Regions from separate parts of the Homo sapiens genome. Here all the other regions are linked to region 2. The links come from fine-mapping of genetic effects on gene expression. A gene starts in region 2. Each other region holds a variant in brackets. All regions are shown on one strand. Distances are from middle to middle. Region 1 overlaps LOC107984215 (a long non-coding RNA gene). Region 2 holds the start of MSRB2 (methionine sulfoxide reductase B2). Region 3 has its middle 280 kb from the start of KIAA1217.

The links. PIP is the estimated chance that this variant, and not a neighbour inherited with it, causes the effect.
Region 1: its variant is fine-mapped to the expression of MSRB2 in whole blood (TOPMed, PIP above 0.99). The same link has a PIP of 0.9 or more in blood mononuclear cells, monocytes and neutrophils.
Region 3: its variant is fine-mapped to the expression of MSRB2 in whole blood (TOPMed, PIP above 0.99).

What each region holds. Positions count from the first base shown.
Region 1 is chr10:23,067,722-23,075,905 of GRCh38, forward strand. LOC107984215 (a long non-coding RNA gene) reads right to left here. Exons shown (of 3, transcript XR_001747394.2): 2 at 1,754-1,847. Among named protein-coding and RNA genes, the nearest start is that of MSRB2, 24 kb to the right of the region's middle. RefSeq lists enhancers at 439-733, 2,979-3,088. The variant C/T (reference allele first, on the strand shown) is at 4,464.
Region 2 is chr10:23,091,013-23,099,196 of GRCh38, forward strand. MSRB2 (methionine sulfoxide reductase B2) reads left to right here and starts at 4,567. Exons shown (of 5, transcript NM_012228.4): 1 at 4,567-4,714. The coding sequence starts at 4,597. It overlaps LOC107984215 (a long non-coding RNA gene), which reads right to left and starts at 4,267. Exons shown (of 3, transcript XR_001747394.2): 1 at 3,808-4,267. RefSeq lists a silencer at 4,375-4,844.
Region 3 is chr10:23,925,244-23,933,427 of GRCh38, forward strand. It overlaps a transcript of KIAA1217 not described here. Among named protein-coding and RNA genes, the nearest start is that of KIAA1217, 280 kb to the right of the region's middle. The variant A/G (reference allele first, on the strand shown) is at 5,052.

The sequences.
Region 1 (8,184 bases), 23 kb before region 2:
ACCAAATCCACTTTCTCCACCCTCCCCTCCTGCTTCCACGGGGAGGTAGTGACATCAACACGTACCGTTTTTTTCTAGAAGGACGTGAGCAAGGCGAGTTGTGAATCGAAGGCAACAGGAAAAGTATGAAGTGGGCAAGTTGGCACAGGTGTGTGGGGAGACACTGGGGAGACCCAGATAGCCTCAGGCACACAGATGCCTAAGACCTCCTGGACCAGAGAGACTCCCAGCATCCCCCAGTTAAGCCCAAACCGGGCTCCTTCCCTGTCCCCCTATGTACCATAGGGTCCAAAAAGACACCGGTGTTCCACTGTCTCTGGAGCTGCCCAGTCCTGCAAAACGCAGCCTCCCCTTTCCCCGCCCTCCTCTTTTCCTCTTCTCCACGCCTCTGCTCTCTTCCTTTTCTCTCTTCCTGCCGCCCTCTCCAGTTTCCTTTTGCCCCTTCCGCCTTCTCAATTGCTTACCTTCTCCCCGACCGGCCTTCTCACTCCCATCTGGGGCTGGCAGTGCTCTTCTCTGTCCAACCAGTAATAACACATGAAGGCCTTCCAGGAACCTTAGGGAAGCCTGGAGTCAAGAGCCTCCAGGACCAGGCCTAGAGACTTAAAGGTGGACTATTCTGAGGCGTTGGGCGCCCCCTAGTGGTCCCTTCATGCCACCAATTCCCACAGGATCCATAACGATAACCTTTTTTACAGAGCGGAAGGTGTCTTTAGTTAGGCTAAGTGGAGACTGAAACAAGGACCTGGCCTAATAATGCACCAAAACTGTAGAAACCTTCTCTGATCCCTTACTTTCCAAAACATTTTTTATAAGAAGGTAGGTGGAATAAAAAGCAAGTTCAGCACGGAGCCAGTGCACTTCACAACAATGCTTAATTTGTCTAGAGCCCCCAGTAAGATGCACCAACTCAAAAGCAGGGTGAGACAGATGGCGGAGTCTATAGCAATGCAGAGATGATCCTGGGAAAAGCCATGGGCAGAAGAGATGTCGATCCAGCAATAGTGGAGGCTTGACAAGGCCCTGGCACTTGCACCTGCTGATTTTTATTTAAGGACACTCAAGAGGCCAGGTGGCTCATGCCTGTAATCCAAAAGCTGTGGTAGGCTGAGGCCAGAGGATTGCTTGAGCCCAGGAGTTCAAGAGCAGCCTGGGCAACATAGTCAGATCCCATTTCTACAAAAAAAAAAATAAAGAAAGAAAGAAAATTAGCCAGGCATGCTGGTGCATACCTGTAGTCTCAGCTACTCAGGAGTCTGAGGTGGAAGGATCACTTGAGCCCAGGAGTTTGAGGCTGCAGTGAGCCATGATTGCACCACTGTGTCCCAGTCTGGGTGACAGAGCAAGAACTTGTCTCTAAAAAAAATTAAAATGCTCAGGAATAAATTTCTCTATTCTACGCATGACACACATTCCTCTGAAAAACCGCACTGTGACAGGCCACACAGCTACCTACTCAGGATGCCCCAGAAAAAGTCCCAGCCACAGATTCTGTCTCCCTTAATGACTAGAGACCTCATTCTCTTTAAATGGCAGATTGTCCCAACCGCAAATCTCTTCTGCACAGTCAGCCTGGGATGCAAACAGATTGCTTTAACGTGTAACTTTGAAAGTCAGGTTGTCATAACCTAGAACTCTGGGAAGCCTCATCATGAAATCATAAAAGCTTGTGTTTGGCTAAAGCAATGTGTTCATGTATCAGTAATTCATGCAATCCTGTACAAATGCAATTTTAACAGATGTTAGCACATACCTGAACTGGTGGAACATTTCCATTAATAACTGTCTGCTTGTTCCGGGAGGCTGGGGAGCCTTATCCTCATCTGCCGGCTTAAGTTCAGGTTAGGCTGGGGATAGAATTTCCATGTAGACATTTTTAAAGTAACAGTAGTAGACGCTTGAAAGTTTCTAGCAAATGGCAGGACATAAATATGCGACCAGCGTGACTGTTTTTGCACAGGTTCACCCACGCAGTAATTACTCCTCAGTCTTATTTGATACATGCTAATTCCTATCTTGTTCTAATTGATTTGTTTTCAGGTCCCTGGGTCTCATAGTGACAACAGTGAAACAAAGAAGAATGATGGCATTTCCCAAAAAGGAACAACAGTTCCCACATGTGTCCAAGAGGAAGAACTGGCCATGGTTGGGGCAGGGTAGTAGTGGGTTAGGTGGTAGCAGTGTCTCCATGTATAGGGAGAAGCCCAGGGCAGGTAGGCTTTGGCTGCCATCCTCTGGCACCGAAGTTCTCCTTAGCAATTGCCCATCTCATTAAGACAGAAACGCATGAGAAAGGGAGAAGACTGTCCTGGTCAGGCTGGGTGCACACACACTCTTCTGGCTATTGCTGGAGTTAAGGCCCAGAAAGATCTTTTTTTTTGAGATGGAGTCTCGCTCTGTCACCCAGGCTAGAGTGCAATGGCACAATCTCGGCTCACTGCAACCTCTGCCTCCTGGGTTCAAGTGATTAGAAAGATCTATTCAGAGTGCTGATGGGCCAGGTGCGGTGGCTCATGCCTGTAATCCTAGCACTTTGGGAGGCTGAGGCGAGCGGATCACTTGAGGTCAGGAATTCCAAACCAGCCTGGCCAATGTGGCGAAAACCTGCCCCTACTAAAAATACAAAAAAATGCCAGGCGTGGTGAGGCATGCCTGTAATCCCAGCTACTAGGAAGGCTGAGGCAGGAGAATGGCTTGAACCCAGGAGGCAGAGGTTGCAGTGAGCCGAGACTGTACCACTGCACTCCAGCCTGGGTGGCAGAACAAGACTCCATCAAAAAAAAAAAAAAAAAAAAAAGTGCTGATGGCAGCACTTATCTTTTAATTGCACATTCCGATGGAACGTTCTTGTCACAATTTTATAGAAACCATTGTAAAATGCAGATGTGGACATGCACTTAAAACAGGGGTCACAGAGGCTGTTAAAGGACACAGAAAAACAGAGGGGAGACAGAGATTGGGTGACTCAAGTGCTAATATTCTTCTGTCTGGAGTAACAAGGTTGTTGCAGTTCAAGAAATAATGTGTTCTATAGTATCTGGTTATCTGTCTCCGATGTGCCCTTTGTCATGGTTGGGTACTCAGCCATGGGCTGTGCCCATGTTCAGGTGGCTCCTCAGAAGATTGGCTACTAACTACCCAATTTGCTGACACCATTATCTAATTGTAAGCAGTCAAGTAATTACTGACGCCATTAACTAAGGCTTAGGAGTGGTGTTCCCAAACCACAAGCCACTTTAAAAGAGAAGTGGTCCTCAGTGTCCCAGCTATTAACTATGACCCTGTATTTGCTAACCTGGCTAGACTGCAGTACAGGAAGCTGAAATGTGCTCTCTGTACTCATAGCATGATTCAATTCAAGGCACCTGTTCTCACACTAGACTGACGGAGCAGCAGTTCTCACACTTCAGCGGGCATCAGAATCAGCTGGACGCTGATGATTCCTGGGCCCCATTTTCAGAAATAGCCATTCTATTAGGCCTGGGATGAGGCCTCAGAATTTGCACTGTTAACAAGCTCCAGGTGAGCCTGCTTCTCTGGTCTGGGGCCACGCTTTGAGAACCACTTGCCTAGAATCTGAAAAAAATCTCCCACTTAGGCTAGCCTGAGTCTTTTTCTTTTTTTTTTTACATAGAGACAGGGTCTCGCTCTGTTGCCCAGGCTGGAGTGCAATGGTGTAATCATAGCTCACTGCAGCCTCAATCTCATGAGCTCAAGCAATTCCCCCACCTCAGCCTCCAAAGCAGCTGGGACTACAGGTGTATACCACCACATCTGGCTAATTTTTGTATTTTTTGGAGAGATGGGGTTTTGCCATGTTGCCCAGGCTGGTCTCGAACTCCTGAGCTCAAGTGATCCTCCTGTCTCAGCCTCCCAAAGTGCTGGGATTACAGGCATGAGCCACTGCACCTGGCTAGTTTCACTCTTTCTTTCCCAATGTCTGTGTAGCAAGAAATAGGACAGATGCTACTCAGTCCTGAAAAGTAAACTATCACCTTGGCTTACAACTGAAAGAGATGTGCAGTTTTGTGAATTTCTGAATCAAAGTCTCTTTATTAATAACCCACGCAATTCCCATTTTAGCCTTCTTTTTTTTTTTTTTGAGACGGAGTCTCGCTCTGTCGCCCAGGCCGGACTGCGGACTGCAGTGGCGCAATCTCGGCTCACTGCAAGCTCCGCTTCCCGGGTTCACGCCATTCTCCTGCCTCAGCCTCCCCAGTAGCTGGGACTACAGGCGCCCGCCACCGCGCCCGGCTAATTTTTTTTTGTATTTTTAGTAGAGACGGGGTTTCACCTTGTTAGCCAGGATGGTCTCGATCTCCTGACCTCATGATCCACCCGCCTCGGCCTCCCAAAGTGCTGGGATTACAGGCGTGAGCCACCGCGCCCGGCCTAGCCTTCTTAATGCCCTGGAGAGATTAGCACTAGAAACAAGAACACAAAATTGCAAAATGAATAACCTT[C/T]CGGTGCCCTGGAGAGATTAGCACTAGAAACAAGAACACAAAATTGCAAAATGAATAACCTTCCGGTGACAGCTGTGACCACACTGAGGGCATTGGAGCCAAATAAAAGTATACTCAACTGCTTGTTTATCTCATTTTGGACTCTGCATATATTCAGTCAGTCGAAGCTCTGAGATGCCTGAGACAAGGAATGAAAAGTAAGGAATTAATATCTCAATGCAACAATTCAAAACTGAGAAAAGAAGGTCGGGCACAGTGGCTCAGGCCTGTAATCCCAGCACTTTGGGAGGCTGAGGTGAGGGGATAACTTGAGGCCAGGAGTTCAAGACCAGCCTGGCCAACATGGCGAAACCCCGTCTCTACTAAAAGTACAAAAATTAACTGGGCGTGTTGGCGGGCACCTATAATTCCAGCTACTTGGGAGGCTGAGGCAGGAGAATCACTTGAACCCAGGAGGTGGAGGTTGCAGTGAGCCGAGATTGTACCATTGCACTCCAGCCTGGGCAACAAAAGCGAAACTCCATCTCAAAAAACAAAAACAAACAAAAAAATACTTGCTGATGCAGAGTGAACTCTCCACTGGACCTTCCTCTTTCAGAACGCTCCAGAACAAAAGTTGGCAGCAGGCCCTGTGTGCTTGTATTCCCCAAACTCCAGAGAATTCATGTCAAGTATTCTAAAAAATTCTCCCACCACTCTTTAGTCTGGCTTGTTAAGCCTCTGGCCAGGGGATCAGAGGCAAGTCTCCCTTCTTGCAGGCACTCCAATTTCCATAAATTCTATGTTGGAGAAAAGGAGAGAACTTAAAGAAAATAATAAGGAAGGCAGGGTTTCCCAGAACACTTTTTACCTGATCAGGAAGTGGAATAGAATAAAAGTCCTCAGGAAAAGAACTAGGATATCATTTCCCTTCTCTAAAGGATATTTTGTGGCTCATGGCTGTAATTCCAGCAATCTGGCAGGCTGAGGCAGAGGATCGCATGAGCCCAGGAGTTCAAAACCAGCCTGGGCAACACAGCAATACCCATTTCTACAAAAAAAAAAAAAAAAAGCCAGACATGGTGGCATGCATCTGTGGTCCCAGCTACTCAGGAGGCTGAGGCGGGAGGATCACTTAAGCCCAGGAGCTGAAGGCTGCAGTGTGCTATGATGGCACCACTGCACTCCAGCCGGGGTGACAAAGAGAGACCATGTCTCAAAATAAATGAAAAAATGAATGTTTGTGCCTCAAAATTCTTAGAATATTGACTCAAATTAGGATGAGATTCTGATTTCCTTCTTAGTGGAGCTCCCAGAAAGATTAGCTCCTAAAAATTTACTCTGAAGAGGAAAAAGAAACACATTGGTGTAAGTGACCTTCCAGACGCCTATTGTTCATCATGGTGTGAGTGCTGTGATATTCTCTTTCACTGTTTGGGAGCCACACTATCCCTTAGCCTTGCAAAAGGGAGCTCCTTCTGCGTTCTGTCTTACAACACAGGAAGATAGCACCTCATGGACCAAAGAGAGTCTTCAGCTGCCTTGACTTGTCAGGCATTCCTGTGTTAGGATTGACAGAGCATTCCTGGCTGGCACTTAATGAGTGTGCATGCCTGACTTAAGTTTTCCATTAGTGGCCTGTGTGTGCGCTGGGTTGTGGGGAGTGTTAAAATTTTTGACTTAACATAGTTTGGCAAATGACACAAGTCTTGTAAAAAACTAAATAACAGAGCCCAAGTGCAGTGTATCATGCCTGTAATTCCAGCACTTTGGGAGGCTAAGGTGGGAGGATCACTTGAGCCCAGGAGTTTGAGACCAGCCCGGGCAACATTGTGAAACCGCATCTCTACAAAAAATACAAAAATTGGTTGGGCATGATGGTATGTGCTTGCAGTCCCAGCTACTTGGGAGGCTGAGGTGGGAGGATTACTTGAGCCCAGGAGATAGAGACTGCAGCAGTGAGCCAAGATCACACCACTGTACTCCAGCCTGGGTGACAGAGCAAGACCCTGTCTAAAACAAAACAAACATACAAAAAGGAAAAAAATCAAAAACATACAGGGATCAGTAGAGTTCCTGGAATTCAAGGAATGTTAGATATTGGTTCTTATTTATAACCTAACATAGTTCTCATAAATAACCTGCTTGCTCTTTTCTCTATGTCTGTCTGTTTGCTCTGGTATTCTGTTTTTGTTTTTATTTTATTATATATTTTTTTGAGACAGGGTCTCACTCTGTTGCCCAGGCTGGAGTGCAGTGGAGCAATCATAGCTCACTGCAGCCTCCAACTTCCAGGCTCAAGCAATCCTCCTACCTCAGCCTCCTGAGTAGCTAGGACTACAGGTGTGCACCAGCACACCTGGTTAATTTTTGTATTTTTTTGTAGAGACGAGGTCTCACTTTGTTGCCCAGGCTGGTCTTGAACTCCTGGGCTCAAGTGGTCCTCCTGCCTCAGCCTCCTAAGTGTTGGGATTACAAGCTGCACTGCTACTCTTGCATCTTCCAGCTTCCCCAATTCTCTCTCTATCCATACCTCCTTCAAATCTCACTCCTTTTAGGAAACTATCCCGGATTTTCCCAGCTTATCCCCAGTTGTGTTTTCATTCACGTGAATCTACATATTAACTGCCAGAGTTGGTTAGAGGTGCATGAAGATGGAAATAATACCTTGTCCTTCATTTTATGACCTTCCACAAACACGTAATAAATACTTGTTAAGTCCTTAAACGAGGTAGCAGTCACAGTATGGTGAGTTTGCAGATGATGCCTCTTTAATTCATAATTTGAAAGTATAACGTTCTATAAAATTATAAATAATAACTAATCAAGAAGTAGATGATTTTTATTCAAGTGAAGATTATTTATTAACAAAAGCATGAAAATAGATGCTACCCTGTGTGGATAATTACTAGATCCACATGAACTTGGCTTTCAGAGAAGTGGAATGTGATGTTCTGCTTTTTCATTTGTAAGTCAATCATCCAAAAACCCAGACAGATCTAGGCAAGGAAAGAGAAGGGAGGTAAAATGTAATCAACATAGGCTGCAATGGCCTGCTTATTCAGCTGTTAAGACATGCAGTAAAATGGAAACTTTTAAATAAAGTGTATGCATTCATTATAACAAAAAAATGAATACATTTAATCAAAACATGGGCCTTTAGGATAATAAACGGAGAACAAAAAATAGAATGTGTTGAGATAATCAAGACAAAATAGCTATGATCGTTTTGATCATCTCGATTTCACTATGGCCCTCCTACAGGGTCCTGTAGTGCATAAAAGTTGTTGGAAAAACAGCTCCGCCTCTAAAAAACACAAGGGAACCAGAAGAGGTCAATCTTGCATTTGCATAGTGAAGCATAAAGAATCTGCATTAGAGGTCAGAAAATACAAGTTATTGATCTGTGTCTAATCCTTTAGGTGTGTGAAACTCGGTAAAGTATCAGCCTCTATGGATCTCATTTGGCTAAAATGCAAATAAAGAGTTTGAATCTGATGACCTCTAAGGCCCCTTCTGGTCTAAAATTCAGCACAATGCTTGCAAAGGCTTGGAAGAATCAACTCCTATTACTCTGTGTGTTCAGTTCTTAATTATGAATGGTAAGATGACTGCATCTTTAAAACATTGTCATTTCATGAACCTGTCATGGGTTGACTACTCTCTAGCTTTGCCATGATGTGGATAGGCATGAGGGTGGGGTTTCACTTTATCATGACGAAAGCCACAGTACAGACCGTAC
Region 2 (8,184 bases):
ATATTTTATATATATTAGATGTTCCAGTTGGTTAGTTTCTAGGAATTCTCTAGATTGAGGTAAAACAAAAATGAGTATCGACATTGAACTTTGGGCAGATGGAAGCAGATAAAGTATTTTCAGTGCAGATTAATTGTGTAAAGCTTATTCCAGTCCCTCATTCTTTCCCAAATGGTTTTTGGTAGGGAAAAGCAAATTGGCTTTTGCACTTATCTCCCATTTTTTGGTCATTCTATCCTATCTTTTAGGGATTTTATTATCAAATTTATAGTTTGCAGAGAAGTGTGTTGGATATACAAAGAGTCAAAGTTATAGAATTTTGCCTTTCCTGAAGATTCTCACAATCAAATTCAGGACATCAGATATACACTGTGTCAACTTCATGAAACAGAAAATCCCAGTAACAGTGATTTAAACAAAATATAGATTTATTGGTCTCTCATGTAATTGGAAATCTGAAGGCAGGCAATCCAAGACTAGCATATTGACTCCACACTGTCTTCAGAATCCTGGGCTCCTTCATGTCTTCTACTTCTTTAAAATCAAGATGTGGGTCTCATCTTCATGTATACCAGAAGATTGCCAGTGCTCCAGCCATCATGACTAATTTCCAAGCAGAAACAAAAGACAGAGCAAAAGTCCAGTGCTGAGCCAGCTCCTCTTTAACTAGTTTTCCTGGTAGCTCCCAGTGATGTCTGCTCCTATCATTGCCCATAACAGCATCATATGATTGCCACCAACTACAAGGGAGCTGACAGATGTAACATTTTAGCTAGGCATATTGCTACTCTTAATAAAATCAAAGATCTGTTTGTAAGTAGAGAGAGTGGATATCGGCCAGGCAAATGATAGTCTCTACCACTCAGTGTACAAAGTAAAAGGGAAAACATAAAGTAGAGTTTTGTTCAGGCTAAGACCATGTGTCCAAGAATGTGAGGTTAATGCATGGCCTTGATGGTTAAGTTGGATTCAGATAAATGGTGGTGAGAAGAGGGGACATTTTAAGACCAGTAAGGGCTTGATCACAGATGAGGTAAAGGTCCTCCTAGCAGGTGTAAAGGAGAATGGTGGTAGGGAGGGAGGGACTTCCTCTGTGCTTAGAATGTCTTTCTGGGAGTGTGAGGATATGTAGAAATGCAAGGATAGATTGGTTATCAGCTCTGTTTACCAATTACCGTTGTCCTCATTAAATCTTCAATAACAACTAACGTTTATTAAAACCAAGTATGTACCAAAGGGTTTGCTAGGTGTTTTAACGTATGTTGTATCTAATCCTTACAATAACCCCATTTTGGGGATAAGAAAACTGATCTGTCACAGGTTGAATACTTGATCAAGCTCATGCGTCTTTTAAATTTAAGATATTCTGACTTGAATGTGTTTTACACCAGACTCCATGATTTTTTTCCCACAATGTCACAATGTTAAGTTAATTTATTAACTTTGCTTGGGATTGGGGGTGAAGGTGGGTGAGTTAAACCGGTATTCCTTGATATTTTCTAAATTCTAAACTTTAGGGGAACTTTACAAACTCTTCAACTAACTAGCAGTGTGATCATAGACAAGGTACTTATCCTCTCTGGATTTGAATTTGTTTACTTATTACTCAGATACAAAACCAGACAGATACTATAAGAGAGGAAGCTTTCAGTCCAACATCCTTCATCAACACAGACACAAAAATTCTAAAAAAATGTAATCCATGATACATAGAACATAATCCAACAATACATGAAACAAATAATAAAACTGACAAAGCAGGCTTTATTGAAGAAATACTAAGTTGGTTTAACGTTTGAAAATCAAGTAACAAACTACAAAAAGAAAATAGGAAAAAGGTATGATTATATCAGTAGCTGCAGAAAAGCATTTGACAAAAATCCAACATCCCTTCCTGATAAAAACTCTCAGTAGACTACAAATAGAAATTTCCTTAATCTGATAGAAAATTTATGAAAAACTTATAGCTAATATCATACTTAATGGTAAAAGGCTGAATACTTTTCCTCTAAGATCAGGAACAAGACAAGGATGTTCACTCTCAACATTTCTATTCAACACTGCGCAGGCTCTAACCAGTGCAATAAGGCAAGAAAAAGAAATCAAAGACATCTGTATTAAAAAGAAAGAGTAAAACTCTTTCTACACAGATGACATGATTTTTCTATGTAGAAAATCTGATAAAATCCATAAAATGTTACTAGAACTAAGAAATGAGTTTAGAAAGATTACAGAATACAAGATCAATATACAAAATCTACATACTAGCAATCAGAAATTGAAATTGATAAAACAATACCACAGCATCAAAAATATGAAATGCTTTAGGATGAATCTATCAAAAGATGTGCAAAACCTATACAGTGAAAACTACAAAACACTACTAGTAGGTGTTAAGGAAGACCTAAATAAATAGATAGGCATATCTTTATTCATGGGTCAAAAGATTCAATATTGTTATGATATTAATTTCCCCCAAACTTATGGATAGAATCAATGCAATCCCAATCAAAACTTAAGTAAGATCATGTGTAGAAATTGACAGACTGAATCTAAAATTTATGTTGAAATACAAAAGACCTAAAATAGCCCAAACAACCTTAAAAAAGAACAGAGGTACAGTACCAATGCTAGCTGGTTGCAAGTCCAGTCATCAGGATATTGTAATATTGATGTAAAAATAGACAAATTAATTAATGGGACAAAATAGGAAGTCCAGAAATAGACACAACACATTGATAGGAAACTGATTTTTGACAGATTCAAAAACAGTTCAGTGGAGAAAGAGTAGTCTTTTAAAAATTGGTGCTAGGAGCCAGGCCTGGTGGCTCACGCCTGTAATCCCAGCACTTTGGGAGGCCGAGGCAGGCAGATTACCTGAGATCAGGAGTTCAAGACCAGACTGGCCAACATGGTGAAACCCCGTCTCTACTAAAAATACAAAAATTAGCCAGACGTGGTGGCACACGCCTGTAATCCCAGCTACTCAGGAGGCTGAGGCAGAAGAATTGCTTGAGCCTGGAAGATGGAAGTTGCAGTGAGCCAAGATCGTGCCACTGCACTCCAGCCTGGCCGACAGAGACTCTGTCTCAATCAATCAATCAATCAATCAATAAAAATGGTGCTGGAACAACTGGATATAGATATGCAAAAAACAAAACAGATAAACAAAACAAAACAAAAATTTTGGCCATATATAAAAATTCTAAATCGGTCAGAGACCTAAATGTAAAACCTAGAACTATAAAAATTTTAGAACAAAACATAGGAGAGAATCTTTGTGATCTTGGATTAGGCAAAGATTTCTTAAATATGATACCAAAAAAAGAACAATCCATTAACAAATTGATAAATTGGGCTTCATCAAAATTAAAAACTGCTCTTCCCAAGACAATATTAGGAGACAGAAAAGACAAACAAGAGACTGGGAAAAAAAATCTTTGTAAAGCATATGTTTGATAAAAGATTTGCATCCAAAATATATAAAGTGTTCTAAGCTCAATAATGAAACAACTCAACATTAAATGGGCAAAAGATCTGAACGGACACTTCACCAAGGAAAATACACTCGCTGCAAATACGCACATGAAAAGATGCTTAACATCATTAACGATTAGAGAATGCATAATAAAGCCACAATGAGCTACCACTACACAGAACCGGAACATCTACAGTTAAAATCTCTGGACTTTCAAGTGTTGGCAAGGATGAAGAACAACTGGAACTCGCATAGACTGCTAGTGGGAAGGTAAAGAAAAAAACCACTTGGGAAAACAGTATAGTAGTTTCTTAAATGGTTACACCTACCTTACGACCTGGGCATTCCACTTCCAGGTATTTACCCCAGAGAGGAAAAACCGTATATGTCTGTACAAAGATTTGCACAGGGATGTTCCTAGCAGCTGTAGTTCTAATCAGGAAAAATTGAAAGCAGGCTAAATCAAGTGCTGACTAAACACACGGTGGTATATCCATAAATGGAATACTGCTCAGGAAGCAATGAATGATTGTTCCATGCAAAAACACGCAGGCATGTCAAAGTAACTATGTTGAGTGAAAGAAGCCAGACAAAATCAAGTACATATGGGATGATTCCATTTATGGACGACTCTAGAAAATGCAAACTAAAACAGATCAGTGTTTGGGCTGCGGATGAGTGGAGTTGGGATAGGTGGAGGGGGGCAGGGCGAGGGAGGAGCAGGAGTGGGAGGAGCTGGGAGATGCAGAGATGGGTTGGGGAGGGTCTCATGGAAGGGAAGGGAGAGAGGAAGGGGGAGAGGAAGGGGGAGGAAAGGCAAGGGGAAAAGGAGAGGAAGAGGGAGGGGGAGAGAGAGGCAGAGTGGGAGGAAAGAGGGGCGGGGACCTGGGAGGGCCCAGGGCACATAGTGGGAGGAGCAGGTGGGAAGGAGGGAAGGAGGGAGGGGCAGGGGAGGGAGAAGAGGGGGAGGGAGACGAGGGGACTGGCGGTGTGGGCGGAGCGTGGGGAGGGAGGCCGACTAGCGCAGGCGGACGGGAGAGAATGGGGGAGGGGTGGGATGGGAGCAGGGGCAGAGACGGGCAGAGGGCAGAGGGCGGAGCGGCGCCGGAGCGGGCGTCATGGCGCGGCTCCTCTGGTTGCTCCGGGGCCTGACCCTCGGAACTGCGCCTCGGCGGGCGGTGCGGGGCCAAGCGGGCGGCGGCGGGCCCGGCACCGGGCCGGGACTGGGGGAGGCAGGTAGGACGCGGGTCCCGCAGGCCCCGCCGCCGCCTACGGCTTTCGGCTTCATTTCACCGGCTGCACCCGGGAGCCTAGGGCCGGTCCAGGCCGGGCGCTGCCCTCCTACTAAGCCCTCCTCGGCGCGCCCCTCCCCCCCCCCAGCCCGAGGATCTGGGACAGTGGATTGTAAACTTGGTGGCGGCAGGGTGGGGACTGACCCCTGTGAGAATCCGAGGAAATGAACAAATGATCCCCCTAAATGTGCGCATAATTTTTTTTTTCTTGGCTCGGGGAGTGGGGGCATAAGTGGGGCTCGGGGGCCTCTGACCCCTATCGGGGACTCCAGGCGAAGGCCCGGGGCCTGGGCTGTAGCAGCCCGGCCCGCGCGCCCCTGCGAAGGCCCCTAGTATTTTGCATTGCAGCCCTCTTCGTAGTTCCGCGGGCTTCCTTCCAGCATCTGAGAAGCAGGCAGTTCAGACTTGGGGTTCCTGTGAGTGTTTCCTGCCCTGCTGACTTCCCATAAATGTGTCTAAGAGCCAGGGAGACTGGGTTGATCATTTGTTCCTTCTTTAAGGTGACAGCCATTGTTAATGACTGAGACAGAGACCAGGGCGAGCCTGTGTGTGTGTGTCTCTCTCTCTCTCTGTGTGTGTGTGTGTGTGTGTTTCTGCTAAATACTTTTGGATCCTCTCTTGGATCTGGGTACCTGCACATTTCACCAAGCAGGAAGGAGTCACCTCGGGAGACCTGTGCCAGCTACCCCTGTATTTCAGTTCTATTTCAGGGTAACTTAGTGCCCCAGGGGATTGGCTTCCTGGGCGGTTGCCAGACTGACCCACTCTGAATCCAATTTTATATGTGTTCATTGAAGACATTCAGAGATACCCAACTGATGAAAATGTACCAACTCATTCTGAGCTCTTTTTAGCCCCTGAAGTTTTCGAAATGCAATATTGAAAGAATACGTAACTAAATAAAAGCGTTGGCGTTGTGGAATGTTAGCTCATCCAACTTGACTTCCAGCTATGGCCTTTCTAATCACTGGTGTCTCTAGTCAGTCTGATGACATTTGCTGTGAGCCTACTGTGTGCCAAGCATTGTATTGCTGAGAACCACAGGTGATAGAAACAGGTCACAGTTACCGACGAGCTCTCTATAACCCCTTGAAAAAGGATGGTGGTTTTAGCGGTAACTACTTCATGGCTGTAATTGCTGCTGTCAGAAGCAGCCTAATGAATTGCCCTGGGATCTGAAGTTCTCCAGCAACAATAAAATTTGGCCAGCCACCAGTAGGTAACAGGAGCTGTGTACCTTATCAGACACCCCTCCTGGGAATCTATTCGAAGGAAATAGTTCAAAAGAAGAACAAAGAGATATATGCAAAGATGCTTTAAGCACTAGTCTCTTACAAAATGGAAACTGGCTGTAACCCAAATCAGTTAAGAAATACTTACGTAAATCATGAAAATTCAATCCAACAAACTGTTAGGCAGCCATTAAAAATGATAAACGGAGTATTTCTGTGGTGAAGGGCTTGGGTATGAATAGATGCAGATTTTGAGTCTTGGCTCTCGGTTACTTCCTGGCTCTGTGTCTGAGCTCAGGCTGCTATTGCAAAACACCGTGGACTGGGTGGCTTCAACAACATTTTCTCACAGTTCTGGAGGCTGGGAAGTCCAAGATCAAGGTGGGAACAGATTTGGTTCCTGATGCAGACCTGCTTCCTGGCTTGCAGTTGACTGCCTTCTCACTCTGCCTTCAGGTGACTGTCTCAGGAAGGACCACTAATCCCTCAAGAGAGCCTCACCTTTATGATCTAATCTAAAACTAATAACCTCCCAAGCCCCACCTCCACATTCCATCTCATTGGGAGTTAGGGCTTTAGCATATGGGAGTGGGGAGAGGAGCAGGGAGAACATATAATATTCAGTTTGTAACAATGTCTTTGGACATGTTTCTTGAATTTGGAAAGTTTAAACTTCAGATTTTTTTTCCTTCTGTCAAATAAGGATAATGATAATGGTAGGGTTGTTGTAAAGAATAACTTTTTAATTAAATATTTTGTTACAATGCTTGACACTTAGGCACACAATAAATGTTAGTTATGATTACATAAATAAGTGGAAAGGACAAAAATGTAGCTACATTTAACTTACATCATGGGCTTCGGGAGTGTTGAGAGAGAGGGAGACATTGGGAGGGGGGAAATGAGAAGATATTGAAATGACAGTATTTTTTTCCAGTGCTGCAATTTCTCATATGCTTAGAGTGATTTTTTTTAATCCAGATTGACAAAGAGCAAACTGAAAAAGGAAAGTAAGAAATATTCTGGAGCAAAAAATCTGTTGCTTCAGGAAAATATTCTTTCTAGAGATGACTATGCTAGGAAACTGTCCTGGGCATAGGGTTAAAATAGTCCAGGCACTGGTGGGAGAGACTAGTTCTGCAGATCAGAATGGGCTGGGGATTCTTTTAATACCAGTTTCTAAAGAGTTCCATTAGATTCAACACATTATTTATCAAAATGGAGTGGGCTTATGTGTGACAATTGGCAGTATAGCAACTGTGGCCAGGAAGGTTAGCAAAACCCGAAGGAGGCACCCAGTAGGTGACCATAGGACCAAGAGTGGATTTCCTTAGGGATGAAAAAATCGAGGCCCACCCCGTAGAACTTCTGACCAACAAAATATATGGCCTGTGCAAATCACAGCACACAGAGAGAAGGGAACTCCAAGGAATTTGAGTTTATTAAGGCATAATTCAAAGTAAAGCTGTGTAGTTATCTCATGCAATAGCAGCAACCGATAAATGTTTTCATAGTGAAGATAGCAAGAGAATGTAGAGGGAATCTGGAAAATGTGTAGCCCCCAAAGGATGAGCACGTGGTGCAGAGGACAGAAAATACCTGCACACACACAGAAAAGGACACAGCCAGTGTTGAAACCTCTCTCTAGCCACGGTAGCCAGAAGACTTGACTCATTCCCAAGTGAGAGACCTTGTCGTGTATCTAATTTACACGTGCCTAAATTGCTGTTTGATAAAACTGCTCAGAATTTACTCATACTGTAATTTTTATTTAAACTTTGGTTGTTTTCTAAAGCCCCAGTGTGTTCATTTGCTAGGGATCCCATAACAAAATATCACAGGCTGGGCAGCTTAAACGATGGAATTCATTTTCATACGGTTCTGGAGGCTGGAAGTCCAAGGCCAAGACTTGTCCTGAGATTTGTCCTGAGACCTCTTTCCTTAACTTGGGGATAGCTGCCTTCTTGCTGTGTCCCCAGGCGGCCTTTTCTCTGCTGTCCCTTCCTCTTATGAGGACACCAGTCTTATTGGACCAGGGCCCCCTCTTAATGGCCTCATTTTGACATGATTGCCTCTTTAAAGGCCCTGTCTCTAAATGCAGTCACATTTTAAAGTACTGGGGATTAGGACTTCAACATATGAATTTGGAAGTTGGCGGGCAGGGAGTGTCACAATTCAGCTC
Region 3 (8,184 bases), 830 kb after region 2:
GCAATTTCTTGCTTTCCTTCTTCTCTTTCAGCATACATAGGCATGCCCCTGATCAACAAATATTTACTAAGCCAGTGCCAGGCCCTGGGTTAGGCACTAGAGAGGCATCAGGAAATAAAACTCCCGGAGCTTCATTCTAGTGGAGAGACATGAAAGAAATTATAGATATATTAAGGGCCGATACATACTAAGTCCTGCCTTCTGCCCTCAACCCACCTCCTCTCTGCATTCTGCAAGGATCAGTCTCTTTTGACTGTCGCTGGACTTTTCCAACTCGTTTAATACATTTCCAAGCTTTTGAAAGACTTTTCTGAGTGAATTGCAGCTTAACAAAGTTCACTTTTATGCTGTGTTCCATGTTTCGAAGGCAGAGGCATCAGTTTTCCCTGAGCCTTTAATCATCCTTCAGGACTTGCCATCTCAGAATGAGGTGCTGCCCTTCTGTGATCATGGAGGGAAGAAGTGGAACACGCCCTAAGTGACTGTAGACAGACTGGATTCATTTCTGGTCCCTGTCTCTTTCCAGCTCTGTGGCCTTAAGCAAGTAAATGAATTCCTACAAGCTTAGGGTCTGGGATCCAAAGAGGCCCAATAAAATAATACTCCTCTTTTCTGCAGGAGTTTTGATCAGCTGAGAATTGATGCAAAGTAGTAAAGCAAATGGGTGTCAAAACAGCACCTGTATTCTGAGTCAAAGGGAATCTGGCTTATATATGAAGGCCAATAAACTTTCTCATACTGGATTTCAAAATGCGCATACTTACCCACACCCCATCACTGTGGTCCTCGATCCAGGCAGACCTCCCCATACTGAGGCAGAGACTGCACCTGGCAAAGCAGCTGTGAAAATCAGCTCAGGTGCATTGGTCCTCAGGAAAAAGAAGGAAGAAGGGGAATCTACACAGGCTCAGTATCTCCTCCCTGTTCCTTAATTAGATTCAGTCAGTTCTCCCACCCAGGGCCGGGATGGGTGGAGGGGGCTGGGAAAAAATAAAATACAGGGGCAGAAGTGTAGCCACTTAATTTCTCTGCATACAAAAGGAGGCAACAGAAGTCAAGAAAAGTCTAATACTTGAGTTTCTTGTCTTTGAAACAGGATTAATACACATCTCATATGAAAATGATGACCATGCTAAGAATGATAGAGAATGCTGTCAATATTTCCATATGAGATGTGCATTAGTCCTGTTTCAAAGGTAGGCCCGGAGCAGTGGCTCACGCCTGTAATCCCAACACTTTGGGAGGGCGACGTGAGTGGATCACCTGAGGTCAGGAGTTCAAGACCAGCCTGACCAACATGGTGAAGCCCCGTCTCTACTAAAAATACATAAATTAGCTGGGCGTGGTGGCAGGCGCCTGTAATCCCAGCTACTCAGGAGGCTGAGGCAGGAGAATTGCTTGAACCCGGGAGGCGGAGGTTGCAGTGAGCTGAGATCATGCCATTGCACTCCAGCCTGGGTGACAGAGCAAGATTCTGTCTCAAAAATAAATAAATAAATAAATAAATAAATAAATAAAGTGCCTGGAAAATTGTTACCTGCTTGCCTCCCTTCCTCCCTCTTTTCTTCCTCCCTCTTTTCGATCCTTCAATCTTTATCTCTCTTCCTCTGTGTTTAGAGAAAGTTATTTGAGACAGCAGTCTATCCTATTTATTTATCTGTTTATTTATTTATTCTTTTTTTGAGACAGGGTTTCACTTTGTTGCCCAGCCTGGAGTGCAGTCACGTGATCTGGGCTCACTGCAGCCTCGACTTCCCAGGTTCAAGCAATCCTCCCACCTCAGCCTCCCGAGTACCTGGATCCACAGGCATGTACCACCATGCCTGGCTAATTTTTGTATTTTTTGTAGAGACAGATTTTCTGATGTTGTCCAGGCTGATCTTGAACTTCTGATCTCAAGTGATCCTCCCACCTCAGCCTCCCAAAGTGCTGGGATCCTATTTATAAATTGCTATGCTGGGATCCCAAAGTGCCTGGTCTATCTTATTTATTTTAACTGCCTGAAAATTTTTACTATAAGTTATTTCTGTTCCAGCAGTAGTTCCATTTTCTCTCACAAGGCTCACCCTAGCAAGTCATAGGGTGTGTGTGTGTGTGTGTGTGTGTGTGTGTGTGTGGCCAAATGTTTTCTATACATTGAGGTTCTCCTCTTGCATTACCACTGATCATTATTCTATTTAAAGTGTAACGTGAAAATATTATGAGAATTAGTGCCACACAAAACTAGTAGTAAATCAGAGGTAGATTTTGAAGGATCAAAATCAAATTTTATTTTCCTGTGAGAGAAGGATGACATGCTGTGAGATGCTCATATGTGATTGAAAGTGATTATGTGAGCTCATGAAAGTAGAATCTTAAGGAAGACAAAATGGTGATGCACTAGGCTTTTGGTTATATATTTTCAGGATGAGATTTATAAACCCTCTGTCCTTTCCCAGAATAAATGCTTCTGAATGTTTTCTTGCTTTGAGCTCCCTGAATGTCACCTGGTTTCCGTGTTGGGGGTTCTGCAGCAGATTCCCATATAAACAGATGTGCTATTCAGGCCTCCGGAGACAGTAAGATTCTTTTTCAGGCTTACTTCTGAAACTAGTGCGCGATAAACCAAATGTCACATTGAACATAAGACTTGGGAGGAAATACACATATAAAACAGCTAATTAAATGGAAAAAATGGTAATCATAAGCTTGCCTAATTCAATCACTGAAGGACTTGTGCTGTTAAACTTTAGGCCAGATGCAGTAACTCGTCCACCCAGCAGACCAGCATCATGGGCTGCTGGCAGGGTACTTGATATCTGTTAAAAAGCATAGCTTAAAAGAAACAATGGCTAAGCTGTCTACCTCTGTAGGCTTGGCTGGCTTTTGCCTAATCATCAAGCATTTCAGTCCCTCTTTGAGACATTGTGCTTGTGTATTTCACAAGGAAGCCACATCTGGCAGCTCCTTCGAGCAGCACAGGGTCCCCTGAGAGCAGTTTAGGCTTGGTAGGGCCACGGTCCAGATGGACTGGGGGAGGAAACGTTGTTTCTAGCTCTTTCTTTGAAAGCAAATCACATATTCTAGTGGAAAATATTGCTTTTCAAACAGTTACCTGAGAAAGCAGCTTCCCAGAATTTGCGGTGAATTTTAGTTTTCCGTGGCATGATAGATCTTTCTCTTTGCTAATTGCTTGATGAATTGTTCATCATGCAATTAGCAAATGATGATTTGTTCATTTATTTGTTTATATAAATGTATATGGTCATTCATTTAATAAGTAGTTATTGAGCACCTACTGTTTGCAAGACATTACTCTAGGGCCTGGGGATGGAGTACTGAACAGGGCATGACAGGATCCTTGTTCTCCTGTAACTTAAAGTCTTTGAAGATGGAAAACGGTCAATGAGCAAGGAATTACACTCATACAATTACATAGTGCTTACTACGTGTCATGCCCCCAACAACCTCATGAGGTAGATACCATTATTATCCGCATTTTACAGACAAGGAAACTGAGACACTTATAGCTCAAGGGTTCACATAAGTAGTAAAGACCTTGAACACAGGCAATATGGTTCCAGATTTTGTTTTGTTCACTTCCACATTGAAAATTTAAAAAGGGCAAGGTGATAGCCACTCTGTGGCCATCTTACCTGGAGAGGTCTCAGAAGGCCCCTCTGTCTGAGGAGATGACCTATAAGTTGAGGTCTGAATGACAAGTCAACTATGCAAAGGTCTAGACAACGAACTGTAAGGGCAGAGGTTCCAGCGTACACAAGCTTGGCATGATAGAGGACCAGAAAGAAGATCAGTGTGCCAGGCAAGGCAGAAAGAAGAGGTACAAGATGAGGTGGTTATGCAGAGGCCAAATCAGGTAGGGCCTTGTAAGCCAAGAAAAGGAGATGGAATGTTTATTATTATTATTTTAATATTGCTATGCTAAGAAATAAAATGAAGTAAATTGTAAAACACAAAATCTCTCATTTATTGTCAATTATTCATGCAATTCTTCATGGCTAACCACCACAAAGTCTGCATCAGTTAGAAAGAAAAAAATATGAACTCACTGAAATAATGGATTTTATTTTATTTTTTATTTTTTTTTATTTTAGACTAAGGGGGCACATGTGCAGGTTTGCTGCATGGAGATATTGTGTGATGCTGAGGTTTGGGCTTCTGCTGAACCCAATAGTGAGCATAGTACCCAATAGGTAGTTTTTCAATACTTGCTCACTTCCCTCCTTCCTCACTTTTGGAGTCCCCAGTGTTTATTTTCCCATCTTTAAGTCCACGTGTACCCAGTGTTCAGCTCCCACTTGTAAGTGAGAACATGTAGTATTTGGTTTTCTGTTCCTGTGTTAATTTGCTTAAGATAATGGCCTCCAGCTGCGTCCATGTTGCTGCAAAGGACGTGATTTCATTCTTTTTTTTGTGGCTGCGTAGTATCCATGAGGTATATTTTCTTTATTCAATCCACAGTGGATGGGCACCTAAGTTGCTTACATCTCTTTGCTATTGTCAGTAGTGCTGCAATAAACGTATGAATGTAGGTGTCTTTTTGGTGGAATAATTTATTTTCCTTTGGATATATACCCAGTGATGGGGTTGCTGGGTCAGATGGTAGTTCTGTTTTAAGTTCTTTGGGAAATCTCGGAGCTGATTTCCACAACGGCTGAACTAATTTATATTCCCACTGATAGTGTATAAGCATTCCTCTTTTTTTGGGAAATCTCTGAGCTGATTTCCACAGGGGCTGAACTAATTTATAATCCCACTAATAGTGTATAAGCATTCTCCTTTTTCTACAACTTTGCTGGCATCTGTTATTTTTTGACTTTTTTGCTAATAGCCATTCTGACTGGTGTGAGATGATATCTCATTGTGGTTTTAATTTGCATTGTTCTGATGATGACTGATGTTGAGCATTTTTTTCATATCTTTCTCGGTCACTAGTTTGTCTTCTTTTGAGAAGTGTTTGTTCATATCCTTCACCCACTTTTAAATGGGGTTATTTGGTGCTTTTCTTATTGATTTATTTATGTTTCTGAAATAAGGGATTTAAAAAATCA[A/G]CCCCAGGATCTTTAAATATATATACAGAAAAATGTCAACCTTCTATAACATCTGTTTCTATGTCATCTTATATAGTTATTATCTAAATATGCAAGCTAAAAAATTGTCGAAAGTCCTCATGAAGGGTGGTGGTGCTTCCAAAGAGCTATGTCCACATTTGTTCTACATCCTGTATTATTTGCTCTCAACTCGGCAGCAGACATTTTTTCACATTCGAATGTTTCTAAAACTGGTTTGCATCTTACAGTCAAGATGCACACAGATATACTAGCAAGATAATTGGCAGGGCCTTTCAGAAATTACAATTTCTGCATCTTGCTTGGAAAGGGCAATATGAGAAGTGAGTTATTTACAATTTGCACAGAAATCAGAGTCAGTGAAATAGACTTTTCCAGTGTATCTGTGATTCATCAGGAAAAAGACATTGGAGGACATTCTCTTTTCCTTCATTGCACTCGAGCTCTGATTTACATAAGTTAACTCAGTGGGAACATGGACTCCTGAGGGTGAGGCCTGGATTTCCTGCCCTTAACAATCATGTGACCTTGTTGTATGTTTCACCTTCTTAGATGGCCCTTTGGTATTGAGCCTGTCCTTCCTCACGTGTGCCTCCCCTTGGTCTCCTGAAGATACACCCAATTATACAGGAGTTCTAGTTCATTGTCTTTTTTGCAATTAAAGAATACATGCATATCTTAAGTCTGGTGGAACTATCATCATATTGAATGTAGCAACAGAATATTCTATTAAATACTTTTCTATAATTTTCTATAGTTCCTACTTCTAGGCTGCAAGCTAACTCACCCCGCCTGCTTCTACCATGTCTTACTTATAACAACAACTAGCATTTATTGGGTTCTTCCTAGGGGTCAAACATTATGTTAAATTCATTACATGGATGTTCTTGTATAATTCCTACAATAATTCTGAGTGATAGGTATCAGCATTAGCTTGTCCATTTCATGGATAAACAAACTGAGCCCCAGAGGGAAAGAGTGACTTGTCCTTGATCGCATAACCAGGAAACAGCAAAGCCAAAATTTGAATCTAGAATCTGGGGACTTTGGTGTGTCCTCCACTCACCTATGCCCTTGCCCTTCACCCCTGTACCTAAATTGACCTGGAGAAAGAAGAGTCACTGTGTCAAGGCCATCCCATCTAACATTTACCTACACCCTGTCTTGCACTGATCATAGTGTGAGCTTTATCCACCAACTAGACTGGAAACTCCTTGAAATAGGAATTATGTCTAATAATCTTCCTGCACCCTCCCAATGCCTGACACAAATGTCCACATGGTCATGATAGGGGGATGGATTATCCCTGGTCAGCTATAGGAAACCTCATCAGATTGACCCAAAAGTGTCTGGTTACCTATCACAAACGAGCCCCACTTTCCTTTCTCATGGGTGGGGTTAGTTTCATCTTCTCGTATTTTACTTTAATATATGGCAGATATGCAGTTTCTTAAAACTTTTGTGTATCAGTAAGAGTCCTGGCAGGAAACAGATGGTTTACTCAAGCTGGGAAATTAAGGAGCATTTACTAAAGGGATTGTTTGCAAAGGCTTGGACAGTAAAGGATAATGCAGTCCTCCAGGGCTGGAGGATACAAGAGCTGTCACTACCCCCCTGTCTAAAGGGACAAAAAATGGGGCCAGTTACCAGACTCCAGAAAAGACCAGCTGGCAAGAGCTGTGGCAGTTGGTAAATGAAACAACCAGAGCAGCCCGGCAGGGAGGGCAGGGAGAGAGCAGAAGAATGCACACCTGGGCTTCTCCCTCCTCCAACTTCCATCTCTGCTGGTGCCTCCTCTTGGCTGAAGGTAACCAGAAGCTGAGGGGCAAGTGAGTCCTTGGTGCAGTCCTGAAGTTGACCTCCTGGGACAAAGGTGACATGGAGAAGGGCAAAGAAGGCATTTGGTGGAGAAAGGGGTTGATATTCATCACAGCTTGTGAGAAAAGTCAGGACTGTCGCCTGCAGGGTCCAAAAATGTAATTGATGAAAATAGCTTAGCTCTCGCTTATTTAATACAATTTTCATTCATTCATCAACTATTTGTTGATGGTCCCATATGTGCCCAGCAAAATGTACAAATTGAACCAGAATCTTCTAGTCTTAAAAAAAAAAAAGTGCAACTTTAGAGATTTGTGAAAACATTCACTGTTAAAAGCCACTTGAGCAATATAATGTATCCTCAACTCTGGGCCTAATACACAACTTTGAAGAAATGTGTGTGTGGGAGTGTTGAATAACTGGTAAAAATTTAACATATAAACTTTCCCAGAGGCTGTTAAACCCTATTCTCATGGAGCATTTTCTTTATGATTTTTAGATAGTAATATTTTAGCATCATCTTACCCCATACCACTGACATTTACTATTTGTTTTTACATTAAAAAACATGAGTTCTGAAGTCCTGAGATGTTATCTCTTTTCAAAGTAGCCAAATAGATTATATTAATCATTACTTTCTAGTTGGCAGATATAAAAGACCTGGTTGCACAACTGTGTGAGTTTCTTTAGAGCATCCTGGCCTTAAATTCCTACTTGGGATAATAATGAAGCAAAAATAAATAAGAATAAAGGTGCTTAGAAGAATTGATAAATATGAAATTGGAACCATATGTAAGGACCACCCTTGTTTTTAGGTTGTTGCTATGACAGGTAAATTGAATACCATAAGAACCTGGTATGAACGATTGGTTGATTAGCTAGAACTATGGGCAGTTTATAATAGCACAAAAGCTGTAGAGGCTTTGCCTTAGCATCACAACATTGCTGCTGATTGCTATTATTTTGGCAGTTTTACTTCTCATATAATAAAATCAGCTTATTATCTGCTAGGCGTTGTGGAGCTAGGGTCTGCTCGCTTGCATCCCAGCTTTACGTCTTCCCTGCAAGCTGTGTAATCACATTCTGCAGGGAGAGTTGAAGAGAGAAATGAATAGAGTTTCAGACCAAATAATATTTTTTGAAAAACTTCAGAGGACAATGCCATCTTTACCGGAAGGGTGCGTTAGTTTCTGAGATGACTGTACTGCTTTGGACTAGGGTTCCAGAGACCCAGGACGTGCTCCTGGCTAGGTGACCAGTCACTGCTCCTAGAGCAGGGCTCCTACCTCTCCAAGCC